Linked DNA regions of Homo sapiens: region 2 is linked to region 1. Evidence: fine-mapped expression QTL. Tissue or cell type: pancreas. Region 1 holds a variant in brackets; the other region holds the start of a gene. All regions are shown on one strand. Distances are between the middles of the regions.

Region 1 (8,107 bases):
TCTTGTTGCTGTTCTTGTCCTTCTTGTGATCTAATTCTTAGAATACATTTGTCAAGTGGAGTTAATTGTGGTTTGTATAAGAGCCTCTTGTGACTTGGGTTGTATGAGCTGGTTCTCTCTAAGGCTGGATAACTCTCAGAGCACTGGCAAAATCAAGTCCCTGGGCTTGGCATGCTGGAGGGCAGGTCCTGGAACACAGCAGCCACACCTAGGCCTTCTGCCTGGCCTGGCAACAGCTCTGTACTCTCTTGAACTTAGTCAAGAGAACACATGATATGCAGTTTTGTGTTTTATAACCAATCCTGTTTCGTTCCACTTTATGTGAACTTATCGAATTACACAAATCTCTTCTGGAGTGAAAGGAGGTATAAACAAGCAAACAAATACATCAGTGAATACTAGGCATCCACTGGTGGATCATACCCAGTTAAATATACCCAGTGTCCCTATTGCTGATGAATCCGGGACCCCAGCACCACAGATTCGGCACTTCAATTTGCCTGCTGGACATTCCGTTCTCTCAGCCATCTGAAAAATGGGCCCCAGAGCCTTTACATTAAATAGCTATTCACTGCCAGGCTTTTCTTGGCAAGATGCCAATTGGCCAAACTTCCTGTGTGGCTGTGGAAAAGGGGAGTAGCTGTTTTGCAATTGCAAGTGCATATAGAGCAGGTATACCTTTGTAATCACCTTATACATCGTATATGATCTGTGAGGAAGCTGTGCACAAAGGCGGGGGTTCTTACCACAGGGAAGACTGGCTGGCACATCCAATGCCATCACTGCACCGTTCTGGAGATTGTGTTTGCCATGTGGATGCCGAACCAAAAGGAATGTCTGTGGCGATATCTCCAGTTTCCCTCCTTTTGGTTGTATTTTTAGGTCTTATTGCCCAGGAGGCTGACTTTAATAATGTAAGAAGGAGGCGATGAATTTAAGGCTTATTCATCCATTCATGAAATAAATATTAACCAAGTACCTGCTATGTGCCCAGCACTATGACCCCTTTTAGCCTAACAGGAGCAAATGTGAGAAGCAAACATCTTGTTTAGCTGGTTCAGGGGTGACCAACATGTGGTTTGGTAGCCTGGACTGATATCTTGTTAGGTATATTAGAACTGCACATCACCATGAGGTCCTGAAGTTGGGAGTGGAGCCGATGCTAGGACAAAGCTGGGAGGGCAGGACAGGAGAGATGTCCAGACCTAGGCAAGGATCCAGGATGCTCCCCAACATCCAAATCCAAGGCCCCATGCAGAGTACTTGACTCTTATTATCTACATCACATGGTTTGAGCCAGGAAAATAGCTGGCAAGGTAAGTGGTTAAAATACTGGGTATGGTGTCAGGAGCTAGAAAAGCTGTAAGAATGAGAGGGGAAGTGTCAGATAAAACTGCCAGGATGACACAAGAGAAACATCTCTCCATCCATCCATCCATCCATCCATCTATCCATCCATCCATCCATTCATCCATTCACCCACCCATCCATCCACCCATCCATCCATCCATCGATCCATCCATCATTCCATCTACCCACTCATCCATCCACCTATCCACCTGTCTGTCCATCCATCCATCCATCCACCCACCCACCCACCCACCCACTCATCTTTCCATCCATCCACCCATTCATCTATCCATCCACTCATCCATGCATCCACCCATCCATCCATTCATCCATCCAACAATCCATCCATCCATCCATCCACCAATCCATCCATTCATCTATCCATCCATCCATCCATCCATCCATCCTTCCATCCGCCCATCCATCCATCCATCCATCCATCCACTCATGCATCCATCCATCCATCCATCCATCCATCCATCCATCCATTCACCCACCCGTCCATCCATCCATCCATCCACCCACCCACCCACTCACCCATCCACTTATCCATCCACCCATCCACCCATCCACCCACCCATCCACTCACCCATCCACCTATCCATCCACCCATCCATCCATCCACCCATCCACCCACCCATCCATCCACCCACCCATTCCTCCATGTATCCATCCATCCATCCATCCATCCATCCATCCATCCATCCATCCATCCACTCATGCATCCATCCATCCATCCATTCACCCACCCGTCCATCCATCCATCCATCCACCCACCCACCCACTCACCCATCCACCTATCCATCCACCCATCCATCCATCCACCCATCCACCCACCCATCCATCCACCCACCCATTCCTCCATGTATCCATCCATCCATCCATCCATCCATCCATCCATCCATCCATCCGTCCACTCATCCATCCATCCATCCATCCATCCATCCATCCATTCATCCATTCACCCACCCATCCATCCACCCATCCATCCATCCAGCCAGCCAGCAAATATTTATCAGTATCCATTCTGTGAAATACAAAGATAAATAAAAACATACTGGTTACCCTTAAGGAGCTTAAAGCATAGTAGGGAAGAAAGGCAATTAATAATGATTATAAATACTAGTTGAGCCTTGCTATGTTCAATGCATTTTTTGTTCCAGTTCCCCAAACCCTTATTCCCATGGGGTGGCACAAAGAGGGCCAGGTGTCATCTGTACCTGCTGTGGGTTGCGTTATGGGAGAGGAGCCCTAAGCCTAGGGAACCCAGATATTTCATAATGGAGAGTAAGCCTACCTGCTCTTTACATTGAAGGGAGACACTATATCTTCTGAGGCTATTTGCTTTGCAAACATTCTTGAAAAGATTGTAACCAAAGCAGTGTCTCTGCTCAGAAGACGTGCAGAAACACAAAAGACTCTTGGAAAAATGCTTCCCAACAATGAGAGGCTTTATTTTTTAGGATGACAGTGTTTTGGAAACAGTGAGAAACAGATACTGAGAGAAGTCCCTAGCCTGGGTACCCAGAGAGCCTTTTACCTTCCTCTGGTAGGACTCAATCCTGGTGTTGGTTACCCTAGACCAGGCCAGTGAAACAGGTAAGTCCAGAAGAGGGAACAGGGGTGGCAGCATTGGATACTCTCTCTCCTACTGGTGAATCAAATGCTTTACTTTATGAAAAACATGGATTCATCCTATTAGCATGTTGGAGCAAGTATCTAAATAGAAAAATAGTCCACCCTGGGGAGGCATGTGGGGTAGAGCAGGGTATATTGTCTACATTTCAATGTGATGATCTCAGGGAAGCAAGGACATTAAAATCTGTTGAGGATCTATAATGTACCCGGTGGTGCAATCATTTCTACAAACTTCATTTCATTTAATCTCATAGGAACTTTTTTTTGTTGTGGCAAAATACACATAACATAAAATTTACCATTGAAATCATATTAAAGTGTACAATTCAGTGGCATTAAGTCCATTCATGAGGTTGTGCAACCATCACCATGATCTTGTGTGAGAACATTTTCATCACCCCAAACCAGAAACCCTGTACCCATGAAGCAGGTACTCCACATTCCTCCTGCCCCAGCCCTGGAAACCATTCATCTGTTTCTGTCTCTGTGGCTTTGTCTGTTCTGAATAGTCACCATCATCTTTGATAGAGATCCTGTTATTCCCAGTTTACAGATGAGGAAGCTGCAGCTCGGAGGAGCTCACCTCCTGTCCAAGCTTGCAGAGGTGGCAGGGGGTGGATGTGATGGGTCTGTATGAGCTCCCTAGGTGGACGAGGAAGGTCAGTCAGTCTTGTTGCCCTCACGTCACCTTCAGGAGCACACCCACTGTTACTGTGTTCAGGGAAGAGGAGAGGAAGTAGGACTCCTACCCACCGGGCATGAATCAGAGGGAGGCAGGAAGGAGAGGGGCTCCAGGTGGAGAGAGGGTCCAGGCTGTGGGTAGCAGAGGCTGGTCAGCAGCAGGGTCAGGCCCCACGGTGGTGAGAGGCTCTCTCTTGCTAGAGTGGTGCCTGGGGCAGGGCAGCACTGCTGCAGCGGGAGCTTCTAGTGCAGCGGGCTTTGGCCCACATGCCCCCATTTAACAGCTTTGTTTACTTGGGTGGGTCCCCCAAGCAGACGCTCTGGGAAGGCAGCCAGTTCAGGTTTCTTTTTCTTCAGGGAAACCAGACCTGTCTTTGGCTGAAAGTCTCTCTGGTGTGCTGCCAACACCTCCAGGCTGTCTGGGGGGCTGAGTGCCTGAGTGAGAGTT[G/C]ATGAATGGCCTCAGGTCAGAGACATCTGCCAACGAGTGAGCTGAGGGAGCCTTTTGTTCATTTCCTGGGAACCTGCGGGAAGTTGGGGCAGGGCGCTGCCCACCCAGTGCAGGCTGGGCCCTCAACATTCCCTTCTCCATGAGCCTCACAGGGTCACTTTCTGGGCCTTTACTCAAGCTGCTGGAACTCAGGGAGCCCCTTTACTTGCTTGGGGGTGCATGGTAGGTGTTTGGGGGTGTTCCTTCACAGATTCTTAAAACTCAAGAGGCTCACAGTCTCTCCTCTGTGGAATGTGGGCCTCCTCCTACCCTCAATCTACCTGGGAAGCAGAGTGGGGAGGAAAATGTGGGCCCGTCCCGGGTGTCCTAACTCATCCTCTGTAGAGGGACCCTCCTCCTTGAGTATCTCTCTCACCCAGGGTGTGGCATCCCTTGGTCCCGAGGGTCCTCAGAGGGTTAAAGCGTTGAACAAAAAGAGCCCTTCCAGATGGGCTGTGCCGTAGCAGCTGTCGTGAAGGGCCCCGCCAGCCCCCGTGGGCCTCTGGACACAATCATGACTGTATCTGGCTGTGTCTGACTCCAATCAGATGAGCTTCGACGTGAGGCATGTGGCTTCCTTCCGGCAATGAACTGTCTGGGGTGAATGTGACCCCCACAGATGTCTGTCTGCCTGCCTCCCTCTCACCTGGCATCTCTGGAAGGAATTTCTAATAGCAGCCTGACCCCATGGGTGAGTGTGCTCCTGGGGGTCAGGACGGTGATCTTACAGAACCTAATGAGGGGGCAGGTGGGCACGGGAAACAGCTGGATGCCTGCAAAGATGATCCTGGGATGAGTACCCTATTCTCACTTGGCATAGCAGGCACAGAGGCAGAGCAGCCCTGGTTCACCCAACCCTGCCACAGGCAGCCATGTAAACTTGAATAAATAAATCCCTTTGCCTCAATGAGCCCTTTCTCATCTGTAAAAGGGGATAATATGTTGCTGAGTTGCCGTGGGTCTTAAATGAGAGAATGCATGTGAAATACCTGGAAAATACATAAGAAATATAAGTAGTTATTCCAGAATAACTAATAATAATACTAAATAATATTGACCTTTCCATCCGACACCAGCTTATTCTGAAAGAATAAACAGGTTTACTCAGGGCGCAGTACCTCTGGGCGAGTCCTGAGCCTGTCCCAGCCTTTCCTGGGCCGTTTCTCTGATGTGTCCCCTGGTCTGGCCTCTGTTTGACTCAGCAGGGGACACTGCACTCTGTGTTTCTGACTCCCAGACCTCTCTCTGGGAAGAAGCCCCTCAAGCGTACAGCTCTATCACTAAAGGCTGCAAGCTGCGTTTCCGATTTCTGAGCGAGCACAGCTGGCATCTGCTCTCCTTCTTGAGCCTGTTGGACTCCTCACCCTCTCTACTTAGCTACTTTTGCTTACAATGCTTGAGCATGGACATCTAATCCTTACTGTCTTGTGGCTCAGGAGGCAGAGTAGTAGCATGGTGCTACTAGTGTGCTTTGGACCTAGATGGATGGTTTGGGTTCAAGTGCTGGCTCCATCATCAGCTCACTCCACTGGTGACATGGGGCAAGTGTCTTCACCTCTCTGCCTTAATTTCACCCTTTCTGAGTTGTGGACATGATCATCTTTCCTATCTACTTCAGGGCTATGGGGAAGATGAGATGAGCTATAGACACACAGGACTCAGAACAGAGCAGGGAAGAGGGGAAGAGATTCATGGCTTTTAATTGTTAGCAAGACCTTAAATCCTATGGGTCTGCCTAGAAACCATCTGGGCTCTGGGCAAAGCCTGGGAGAGGGGGTAGACAGCTGTTCTAGTTCCTAGATATGAGAGCTAGAGCTAGGGTGACGGTAGGAGGGAGGAAGAAAATGAACATTTCTCGATGCCTGTTGGGTGTCAGCCTCCTAGGTGTTTGCCCTGTGTTTATTCCCTTCCCTTGGTGAGAACCCTCAAAGGATGGGGCAAAGGATGTGTTTTGACTCTACGGCCAAGGAGGAAGCCGGATAAGGCAGCTGAGACACCTTGCCCAGTCTCAGTTAGCACATCATGAGTCAGGGTTCAATACCAGGTGTGTCTAAAAAGCCCATTCTTCCCTCATTACCATTCACCTCTCCCTATTGGCTGAAACTGTCAGTTCTGAAACAGAAGGGGGACTGTTATTCCAGACCTATTCACTGTCTCCTTGTTTGGACATATTTTAAGAGCCGCCCTAAGCGATTATGTGACAACTTATAAAAACTAAATACAAGTTCCTCATCGCAAACGTTCCAAACTGCCCTGGCAGCTTTCAGGTCAACTTATTAACCTGCTGAGGGTGGTTCTGCCAGCAATCTGTCCCTCTGTTGACCTGGGGACTTGATTGCACATGTCTGTCATTTATGGCCACAACAAAGTTAGAAAGACTCGTGGCTGGCTCTATGACATTTGTCATTTAACATTAACTTGAGTTTTCATTAAAAAGTGTTCCTTTCACCAGAAAAAAAATGAAGACCGCTCTCCTTCATATTAAAAGCCATCTCGAACCTTCTTATGTTTTCTGGGACTTAGACATCTTCAAAAACAATGAATACTGCCATTTTCATGAATAGCAGTTCCCCAGGCTTGGGTAGACAAAAGCCTCCAGTAACTGAGGCTGTAGAAATGGAAGCTTGGAAGACAGGGAGCTGGCCCATGTGGTAAGTGGGAGATACTTCGGCTATGGAAATCCCAGGAGACGTGCAGCATGGGGCAGTCCAGGAAGGCAGCCCAAGTCAGCTCATCCCCGAGACATGAAGAGAGGAGTTAGGCGGCTGACACCGCAGTTATCAAGAGCAAGCTGCTCCTGTGAGTGGGGAATGAAATCTGGGGGGCAGAGGGATTCAGAGGAAGGTGGAGACTCAGACCCCTCCCTGGGGAGCTCTCTGGAGTAGGGCTGATGTCAGAGAATGGCACTGGAAAGAAAGCCTCTGTGTTTGGTTCCACCGGGTCAGGGGCGCTTCTTCTGGAGGAAGGCAGAGGAAGGCGAAAGCAACCTCTTATTGAAATGCGGAAACCTCCCCACGTGCTCATCAATTACCAGGCCAAAGTAGGTGGAAATAGCTCCCCTCGCCTTCCCTCTGCAAACCGTCATTCCCACCCTTCCTTCCTGGTCTGTGGACTGTCATCTCCAGACAAAAGAAGACGCAGCTAAGCGCAGCCCCTTCACACACCCAGGACACAACAGAGTGGGTGGCAAAAAAAGACGTGGCTCGGGGAGGGAGGGAGGAGAGGCAGCTGGCTGCCTCTGAGGCCACAGACAGAGGCCAGTGCTCCGTCCTCATCCTAGAATGCTGCAGCTGGGAAGGACCCCAGGGCCTAGTTGCACTCATCTGCCGGGGAACCAAGATCCAGAGGAGGAGATGTGAGCATACAGCCTAACGTAGGCTGAGCTGCACAATTTGTTCATTCAGCAGTGGAGCCAGTGTCTCTTGGAGCAAAGGTGGGAGCTAACCCTTGAGCAAATTTTCTTGGATCTTCTGCAGATATTTGCTTCTGAGGGAGGCAATTTTGGTGGCCTGGCTGAAATTGGCTTACAGTGCAAGAGAAATACCTCCTTTGGCTAAAACTACTTTTCTTTTCTTTCTTTTTTCATTTTTTTTTTTTGAGACAGAGTATCGCTCTGTCTCCCAGTCTGGAGTGCAATGGCACAATCTTGGCTCACTGCAACCTCCACCTCCAGGTATAAGTAATTCTCATGTGAAACACCCCTGAGTAGCTGGGATTATAGGTGCCTGCCACCACATCCAGCTAATTTTTGTATTTTTAGTAGAGACGGAGTTTCACCATGTTGGCCAGGCTGGTCTTGAACTCCTGGCCTCGAGGGATCCACTGGCCTTGGCCTCCCAAAGTGCTGAGATTACAGGCATGAGCCACCACGCCCGGCCTGAAACTACTTTCCTTTAGGTATATAAGGAAACACCAACTAAACCTCTACCAACAGACAAATCCATGAGTGGA
Region 2 (8,107 bases), 31 kb before region 1:
CAAAAACCTGAGAGCCTCCAGTGTCAGGAGGTCATGAGTTAGGTGCTGTCCCACAGAGCTCACTCCATCCTCACAGTGGCCTTGTGTGGTGGGCGGGTTAATCCCTATATTATTACGACAAGGAAACAGGTGCATGGGAAGGACACCATGCTAGTGAGTGCCAGGGGAGACTTTGAATCCAGGGCTGGCTGCCTCCCCCCCGGTACTCTCTTCCTTCAGAGCAGGCTGGGGCCTGGGCCTTAGTTGACCCGAGGATCCTTGCTGCTGTCGTGACCTCCTAGACCTTGTCCCTGTGTTTCCTGAAGCCTTCCAGCTGGTGTGTATGTGAGGACCATCCGTGGGGCATGGCCCAGGGGCCCGGCCTCCTCAGCTTCAGGAGCTGCTGTCAGGCGTCCCTCTGAGGGAGCAGGGGGTAGCCAGGCAGGCCAGCCTGTGACCTGTCATGCTGGTGACAGCAGAATGGGGGTGCTCAGGCTCAGGCCCCATTCTCAGGCAGCCCTGGGTTGATTACCTTCTCTGTGGCAACTTCTGTGAAACAAGCCACTTTCTAGAATCTGGCCATTCTGGAGCTTAGGGCATGATTCAGCCACTCATTAATGTTATTTTACTTTCAAAACCAATACTCGCTCACTGTTGAAATGGCAACAAGTCAGAAGTTAAAAGTATAAGTCCCAATGATGTGTCAATATGGATTCATCAATGAAAACAAATGTGTCCCTCTGATGCGGGATGTTGACAGTAAAGAAGGTTTTATGTGTAGGGAAGGCTCAATTTTGCTATGACCCAAAATTGCTCTAAAAAAGAAGTCTATTTAAAAAAACATAACAAAAACAAAAAAGTCCCCCCCCATTTCTTCTCTTTTGTCTCATACTTCAGAAATAACTACCGATAACAGTTGTTTTATCCACAGATACACATATATATTTACATACATATATATCTCTATATCAAAAAAATTAAAAAGCAAAATTGGGGCAATAGCATGCTTTTTGCGGCTTACTTTTTTAACTTAATTATAGCAAACATTTATTGAACACTTAATGCATGCTTACAACTGTGCCACGCATATCTAGAATCCTCACAACTCTTTGAAGTAGGGACTACCATTCTCCCCATTTTACAGGTGAGAATACTGAGGATTAGAGAGGATAAGGAATATTTCCAAGGCTAAGTAGTACATGAGGGGCAGAAAAGTACATCTAAGCAAGCTGACCCAACTCCTCTTAATGAGTGCACCATGAAACATGCTGTTTTGCAGTATCAGTGACACCTTCCATGTCAGTTCCTATAATCCGCCTTATTCTCTCTAATGGCTGCAAGGTGTCTCATGGTCTGAATGTACCAACATTTCTAGAACACATCTTCTACTGTGAATGCTGTTATTTCCAAAGTTTTTACGTTACAAAATCAGTGAAGAACAGTTTTGCACACAGGTAAATTCTTATCATTCTGCTCTCTGTTATGTTAGCTTTTTTGTTCTCACTCATTGAAAATACCAGTTATAAAATCAACATTATAAATCTACCAACGATCATATTCACATTCTCTTCCTTTAGTCCATCTCCCCAATCCCTGTCCTTTCCCTGTCCAAGCATTGAGTTTAAGGGGGTCCATGGAGCAGCTCCCATGCCCTCCATTGCCTCATTCAATTTTCCACAGGTTTATTGAGCTTCTCCTGTGAACCAGGCATGTGAAAAGCACCACCAGAGCACCCACCCATCTAGTGAGGAAGAGACATGTGTGACTGGTGAATGAACATTCCCTACAGCATCCTCTAATAGGAGCAGAGGACAGGGGATATTTGGTATGCAAAAGAGCAGGGAGGATGGGGCAATGTCAAAAGGGAAGTCACAGAAAAGGTCATTTGATTCTTGAAGAGTGAGTTGCATTTGCCAGGTGGACAAAGGAGAGTGGGGGCCCTCCAAATGTTGGACAGAGATGTGCAGGCTTGCCCACGGCCTCTCTCCCACATGCTTATCAGCCTCTTCCCACCAGCCCTTGGCTGTCTGTGTCTTTCTCCTGGTCTGGCCTGAAGGAACATGGTTCCACTTTGGCATATTCCTCATTTCCTCCTCCTCCTATAGGAAATGGCCCTCGATCAAGTGATTTGGGGAACCATCCAGTCTTCAGTTCCAAGACTCCTCTTGAATAGTGCTTTCCCAGTGGCCAAACTTCTGTTAGGAAGATGTAACATTTGGCCCTGGGCCTCTCAGCCTCCTCTAAGGAGTCTCATGATCTGAGAAGCTTCACCCAGGCTAGAGCCAGAAATGTAATCCCATCCTACCGTGTTTGCTTGGTTAAGTTGCTAAACACGTCTCATTTTATAAGGGAAGAAAAGAGAAGAAAAAGGCTTCTAAATGCCCATGAATTGTTAGAAGCCATGTCTGGTGCTTAATTTCATTTAATTCTCATGGCTGCTGGCCCAGAAGGTGTTAATTTTTAGAGTCAAATCTTAGATTTGCAAGGGGATTTGGCTGAGGTCACACAGTTAAGTGGCATGATTTAAATCTGTTTTCCAAGTCCCTTTTCTTTGCCCTGCATTTAGGAGGAGGGCCTTCAGCACCCCCAAGCTGAACTGGATTCCACTTGAATCTTGTCCTTTTTATACCAAACCCATCTGGGGGATGGAGTGTTGCATCCGCAGCACATCCCAAGTGACAAGTGCAGCTGATGCCATCACTCCCTGTGGTAGACGAGCCAATCGTTAAGTGGCTATTTATGTGTCGGCCAGCCTCAATGGAGGCTCAGGCCACCAGTTCTGGTACAGGTGCTGGGGGATGGAATTTAGTGGAGAGGTACTGAGCCACCAGAGAGCAGTGTCCTAAGGGTTGTCCCCAAAGCTGCAACACAGATGTTGACTGGAACCACCTAGCCTTCTGCATCTGCAGGGACATGGTGCTCAGGAGGCCCTAGGAGGCTCCTGAGTAGGGGCAGCCTATGCATTATCCTGCCCCGAGGGCATCTCTGGCCAAGCTCCTACCTCCACTTGTAGAGGAGACCTTGAGCTCTGGATCCTGATACACCCGAGTCATTTAACCTCTCAGAGTCTCAGTTTTCCCATCTGACAAATGGGAATAGAAAGCATTCAATAAACATTAGTTTTCATTCTCCTCTGCCTTCCGTGTCTTCCATGGGAATTCAGTGATTCCACTATGACTAATAGAACCCAAATCTCAAGCTCTTTCTATTTCTATATACACCCCAGGTGCCACTCAGAGTGTGAGCTAACTGGCACCACCTCAGGAAGTACAGGGTCAGGCACAGGGCATTAAGGTCACATAGGGAGCTGATGGCACCTTTTTCTAAACCAGAAATCCAGCCTAATGTCTCCCAGTCTCCCCCGCCTCTTCCTGGCTTGGCCTACTGGGCTTCTATACTCCGTGCTCTTGGCCTCTATGTCTCTTTTGAAAACTTCCCAGGCTGGAAGCAGAAATAATTCCAATATGTGCAAGTTTCTACTACCGTTTCTACTCTATTCCCAGAATTTCTACCATGTAAATACAGTGACCCCCAACCCCAACTTGTCACCTCCAGCTTCCTTCCTATGCAGGCACAGTTTTCCTATCCTTATCACTTCAGCATAGACAGAATCATTTGTTGGAAAGCAGGAGTAGAGCCCGAATTAGGTTAAGGTGAGGAAAGGCATTATTGCCATGGGTCCCGCTTAAGAAAATCCCAGAAGATAAAGTGGTGCGGCGCGTGCCCTGTGTCTGCTGGTCTTGGCCAGCTGCTGCACAGGGGTGAATGACTGTGGCTGTAGTGAGGACAGCAGGGGCTCTAATCTTGGCTCTGCTGCTCGTCCTGCAGTGGCGCTCCCTGATGCTCATTAGGTGTTCAGCAGAGTCCAGGCCTGCCCCCTCCCTCGGTCCCAGCAGGGCTTGTATTTGGATCTCCCTCCCTCCCCTCTCTCCAGACACCTGGAGGGGCCAGCAGTTTCCTTACCAGGTAGTTGTTGAGGCTCTGTTAGGGCAAGTCCTTCAGGCCTACAGGCAGGACTTCCAGGCAAGGCACGGTCTTCTGGGTCCCCAGGGTTCTCCTCATCCTCAGCCCTGTCCCCTCGTATGTGGACACGCAGCCACCCTCAGATGGAGTGGCTCTCTGGGGAAGAATGGAGCTGCTAAACCTGCTGTGCAGAAACAGAGGTGGGCGGAGCCTCTCAAAGCCCCATCCTTGGTGGGGACACTGACTTGTCCTGAGTGTCTGGAGATCGTCTGGTCCTGAGTTTCTGGAGATCGTCAGCTCCTGCTATAGCTACTGCCTCCAGGGGTTTGATTCTGAGATCATGTCTCAGTCATGCTCCCAGACCTCTGCCAGAAAAGACCCCTGAGATCAAGGACCCATGAGAGTCAGATAAAGTGGGTGACCCCCACCCACTATGCCGGGCTCTGAATTTGGTGGACAGCCCTCCACCCTGGTGCAATGGAATGGCTATAGTGGCCACTTCACCTCCTTAGGCCTCAGCTTCCCATCTATAAAATGAGAAGCTGACTGTGTGTAAAACTCCGATTTCTTGTTGTGTATTTTAAGAGCATCTTTGGGATCAACAGAAGGCCTATTCTATGTTAAAAGAGACTTTCATATCCCAGGACCTAGTGCTTTCCAGCCTGGGAAGTTTCAAAAAGACTCATAGAGGCCAAGAGCACAGAGGATAGAGGCCCAGGAGGAGGAGGCGGGGAGACACAGAGACACTGGGCTGGATTTCTCCAACCCTCCACCTTCCCCCATCCTGCTCTCACACAGAGGATTCTTTAACTTCCCACAGAGTCCTTTCAGGAGCATCCCAGAGAGGGAGGCCTTCTTCCTCCCTGGCCAACCAAACCTCCTAACAGAAGTGCTTCGACAGTGCTCACTGAGCTCTGGGTCATCCCCTCATCATAGCCAGTGGCCCCAAACTCACTCTTGGCTCCAGCCATGCAGGTAAGGGGAGGGATTCCTTGGAGGCTTGGCCTTGCACCCTGAGGGAGCTGGGAGCCAGGAGGGACTCAGATGGAGGGGCAGAGAGAGAGCTGAGGCTGTGGTACGAGGCCCAGAGGCATCTCCTTCCCTCCTGACATCATGGCGAAGCTCCTGCCTAGACCCAGTCTAGGAGCCGGGAAGGGAGAGAGAGAAAGGAAGGGGAGCAAATGGAGGGGCAGGAAGGGGAGGGCCACAGTGTACAATGAACCATAGATGCCTTTGGCCCCAAGCCAACTTCCTTAGTGAGCTTCTGGAGCCTGGCCAGCCTGGAAAACATTGCTCCGCTGGTGGGTAAGGAGTGGGCACCTAAAGAGACAGCGCTTTCATTTCTCCTGAGAGGACTCACTTTCACTTGGGAACCTTGCTGGTGGCTAGAGCAGGAATGGCTGAGGAGCCGGTTTCAGGTTCTCAATGAATAGACAGTGATCTGGGGCTTTTCTCAAAAAGCCTAAGATATTCTCACACAGAACAAAGGCTCCAGAGTAATAAAGACAATTCAGAGCTGGGAGGTGGGGGTGGGAGGGTTTCCTCTGACCCAGGAACAGTGAGACTTAGATGAAGGAACATGGGCTGGCTAGCTGCATGGTCCTGGACAAGTTGCTTAACCTCTTTGGGTCTCCATTTCTTATCTGACCAATGGGGCTGATGCTTCCTTACAGGATTGCTGTAAGGAGTCAGCAATGACAGATGTGGTAACACATCTGAAAGCACCTGGCACCTTGACCTGGCACATTGTAGACGCTCAACAAATTGTTCTTTTTCTCCTGATGGTGTAGTGTCTTGTCAAGTTTGTGCTTATCTATCCAAACCTCCATCCAGATATCTATCTATTATCTATCTTCATCACCATTATCTGTCAATCTGTCTATCCTGTGTTTAATCTTCCCAATCATATTGTTAGTATTTTCATTGCAAGGGGCTTGAATTGTACTTCTATGTAGACATCCAGTAAATATGTTAAGAGACTGATTACCCCTGGTGGCCAGGGAAAGCCAGATCTTAAGTGAAAGTAGGTATGATAAGGCGTCTTATCTCCCACTTTCAAACAATGCTTCATTCTAGTGTTGGCTTCTTCTTAGATTTTCTTCAGATCAAGTGAAGAAATGCCTGGGAGGGGAATTTCCAGGAAAACTAGGTTCTTCTCCAGTATTCCCAGGCATTCTTGCTCCGTGGATCCAGAAACCCCAGCAACCTCTGCACCACACCTCATTTCCAAGTGTGACCTCTGGTCTCAGGAGGCCTAAGGTCAGTGTTAGGACGTTCAGGATGTTCAGATGTACTGCCCACAGGATACTGATCTCAGTGTCCACCTCTTACTCCACATGGTCATACTCTCTCCTAAGTGTCCCGGAAAAACAAAGGCAAGAGGACATAGATATGTCTTGCCTTGTACCTCAATCATAATGCATGCAGGATACTAAGTCATAATAACACCGTACATTTGTATAGTGCTTTGCAGTTTTCAGAGCCTTTGGCTGTGCATATGCTTTATCTTTGAGCCATATAATAATCCTGTGAAGCAGGCAGGGCTTTTTAAAAAATTGTTATTTTACAGATGAGGAAGCTGTGCTAGTCAGCCAGCTATTAAGGGGTGGAGTCGGCATGGACTGGAATCCAGGTCTTTGAATTTCAAATCAGCCGCTTACCCAAGTCCATTCAATAATGGTGGGGAGTACAGTGAAACAGAGTTCAACTAAAGCAGAGGACAGAGAAAACCTGTGGGTCTTCCCCTTGCCTGGGACACTGTAGTGGGAAAAGATTACTTTTTGCACCTGTGCTTCCCAGGAAATACTGCCTGTCAGAACTGAATACCCTTCTCACCTGCAATCCCAGCTGGAACGTCTAGGACAATCTCAACCCTCTCATCTTCCTTCTTCCCCCACCCTCAACACCTGATGGACCCTCACTCTTGATACCTTGTTCTGTCTTATCTCCCAACGCCTGGCTCAGCAACTCCTCATCTTAGAAATGGGCATCTCCAAAAAGAGGCCTGAATGGCTCTGTGCAAGATGAGCCTTTGAATTATAGGAGAAAATATTAGAACTTCTATGGCTTCAAACAATGGGAGAGATATTGTACTTTACTAATATTTACTATGTGCATGGATACTGGCTGCTCACCAGTGTGATAGGAAGACTGTCCAAGGTCATGTATAGCTGGGCCAAGCCACGTGAACCTGAGGATGGAGTGGGGGCTTTACAACATGGAGGGCTTGGTCTTGCAATCCTTTGCTTTGGGACCAGGTTAAATGGATTGATGATTTGTTTTCACCAAATTAACCCTAAATTGATGTGTGGCTTAAAAAAAGATTATTGCAAAAATGAACTACTGAAAGGAGATAACACTAGTAATGGAAACAGCAAGAAAATGGTAGCACTGACACTTCACTCATCGTCACCTAATTAAACATCTTCCAAATGAAGAGTTTTCAAACTCTTGTTAAAAATATAAAAGTGCCAATGGCAAATGTGGAAGAACAATTGATCGACATCAGAGAAGATGACATTTCCTAACTGAATTTAGACACAATTTGCATAATTGGTAAGATAGAAAAATTATTATTATAGCAAGCACAGCCAATGTAGTTAGTGCCTTTTCCATTTGGATTTCTGCACTTTAGTGAAGTATCATTTTTTTCAATTCTGAAAGTGATTAGAACTAAATATCAAAATAATTTGAACTTAAAACTAGTCTTCTAAATATCATAATGCAGAAGCTTAATATGAAAATAATACAAACATGATAAAACATAACAACCTCAGTACAAATATTAGTTTTCATAAAAATTTGTTCCAGTGAAAAGGGTTTTCCTGGGTATGGTTAACAAAATAAAAGCTTAAAAAGTAGTGTTATGTCATCTTTCATCTTTATCTCACCCATTTAAATGCTTTTTTTTTTGTATATCTTATCACACATACCATATATTAGGACATAAGACAGTCTCTAAATAAATTAATGTACACAGGTTGAGGACATAGGATCAAAGTGTGGAGACAGTTGGGCCAGGCTATTGAGGAAGTTCCTGACTGTTTTTTCAACTTCCAAATATATTCCCCTCTTGACAATCACCAGGCCGATCTTCGTAAAAACCCAGAGCGGATCAGGTCACTTCTCTGATTTCAGCTCTGTGTTGAGGTGAGTGGGTAGCAAA

Which allele goes with the higher level. Positions count from the first base shown, and alleles are read on the strand shown. Sizes are in standard deviations (SD) of each study's normalised expression.
For the expression in pancreas of the gene that starts at base 4,092 in region 2, allele G in region 1 goes with a higher level than allele C (small effect, 0.37 SD a copy in GTEx).

The links. PIP is the estimated chance that this variant, and not a neighbour inherited with it, causes the effect.
Region 2: GABRP starts here. The variant in region 1 is fine-mapped to the expression of GABRP in pancreas (GTEx, PIP above 0.99).

Annotation. Positions count from the first base shown.
Region 1 is chr5:170,748,355-170,756,461 of GRCh38, reverse strand. The region is part of intron 1 of LOC107986473 (a long non-coding RNA gene); the gene reads left to right. It overlaps LOC107986474 (a long non-coding RNA gene), which reads left to right and starts at 4,056. Exons shown (of 2, transcript XR_001742977.2): 1 at 4,056-4,339; 2 at 4,705-5,063. RefSeq lists enhancers at 3,481-4,365, 4,366-5,250, 6,634-7,391. The variant G/C (reference allele first, on the strand shown) is at 4,118.
Region 2 is chr5:170,779,710-170,787,816 of GRCh38, reverse strand. It overlaps GABRP (gamma-aminobutyric acid type A receptor subunit pi), which reads right to left and starts at 4,092. Exons shown (of 10, transcript NM_014211.3): 1 at 3,943-4,092. It overlaps LOC107986475 (a long non-coding RNA gene), which reads left to right and starts at 4,761. Exons shown (of 2, transcript XR_001742978.3): 1 at 4,761-8,107.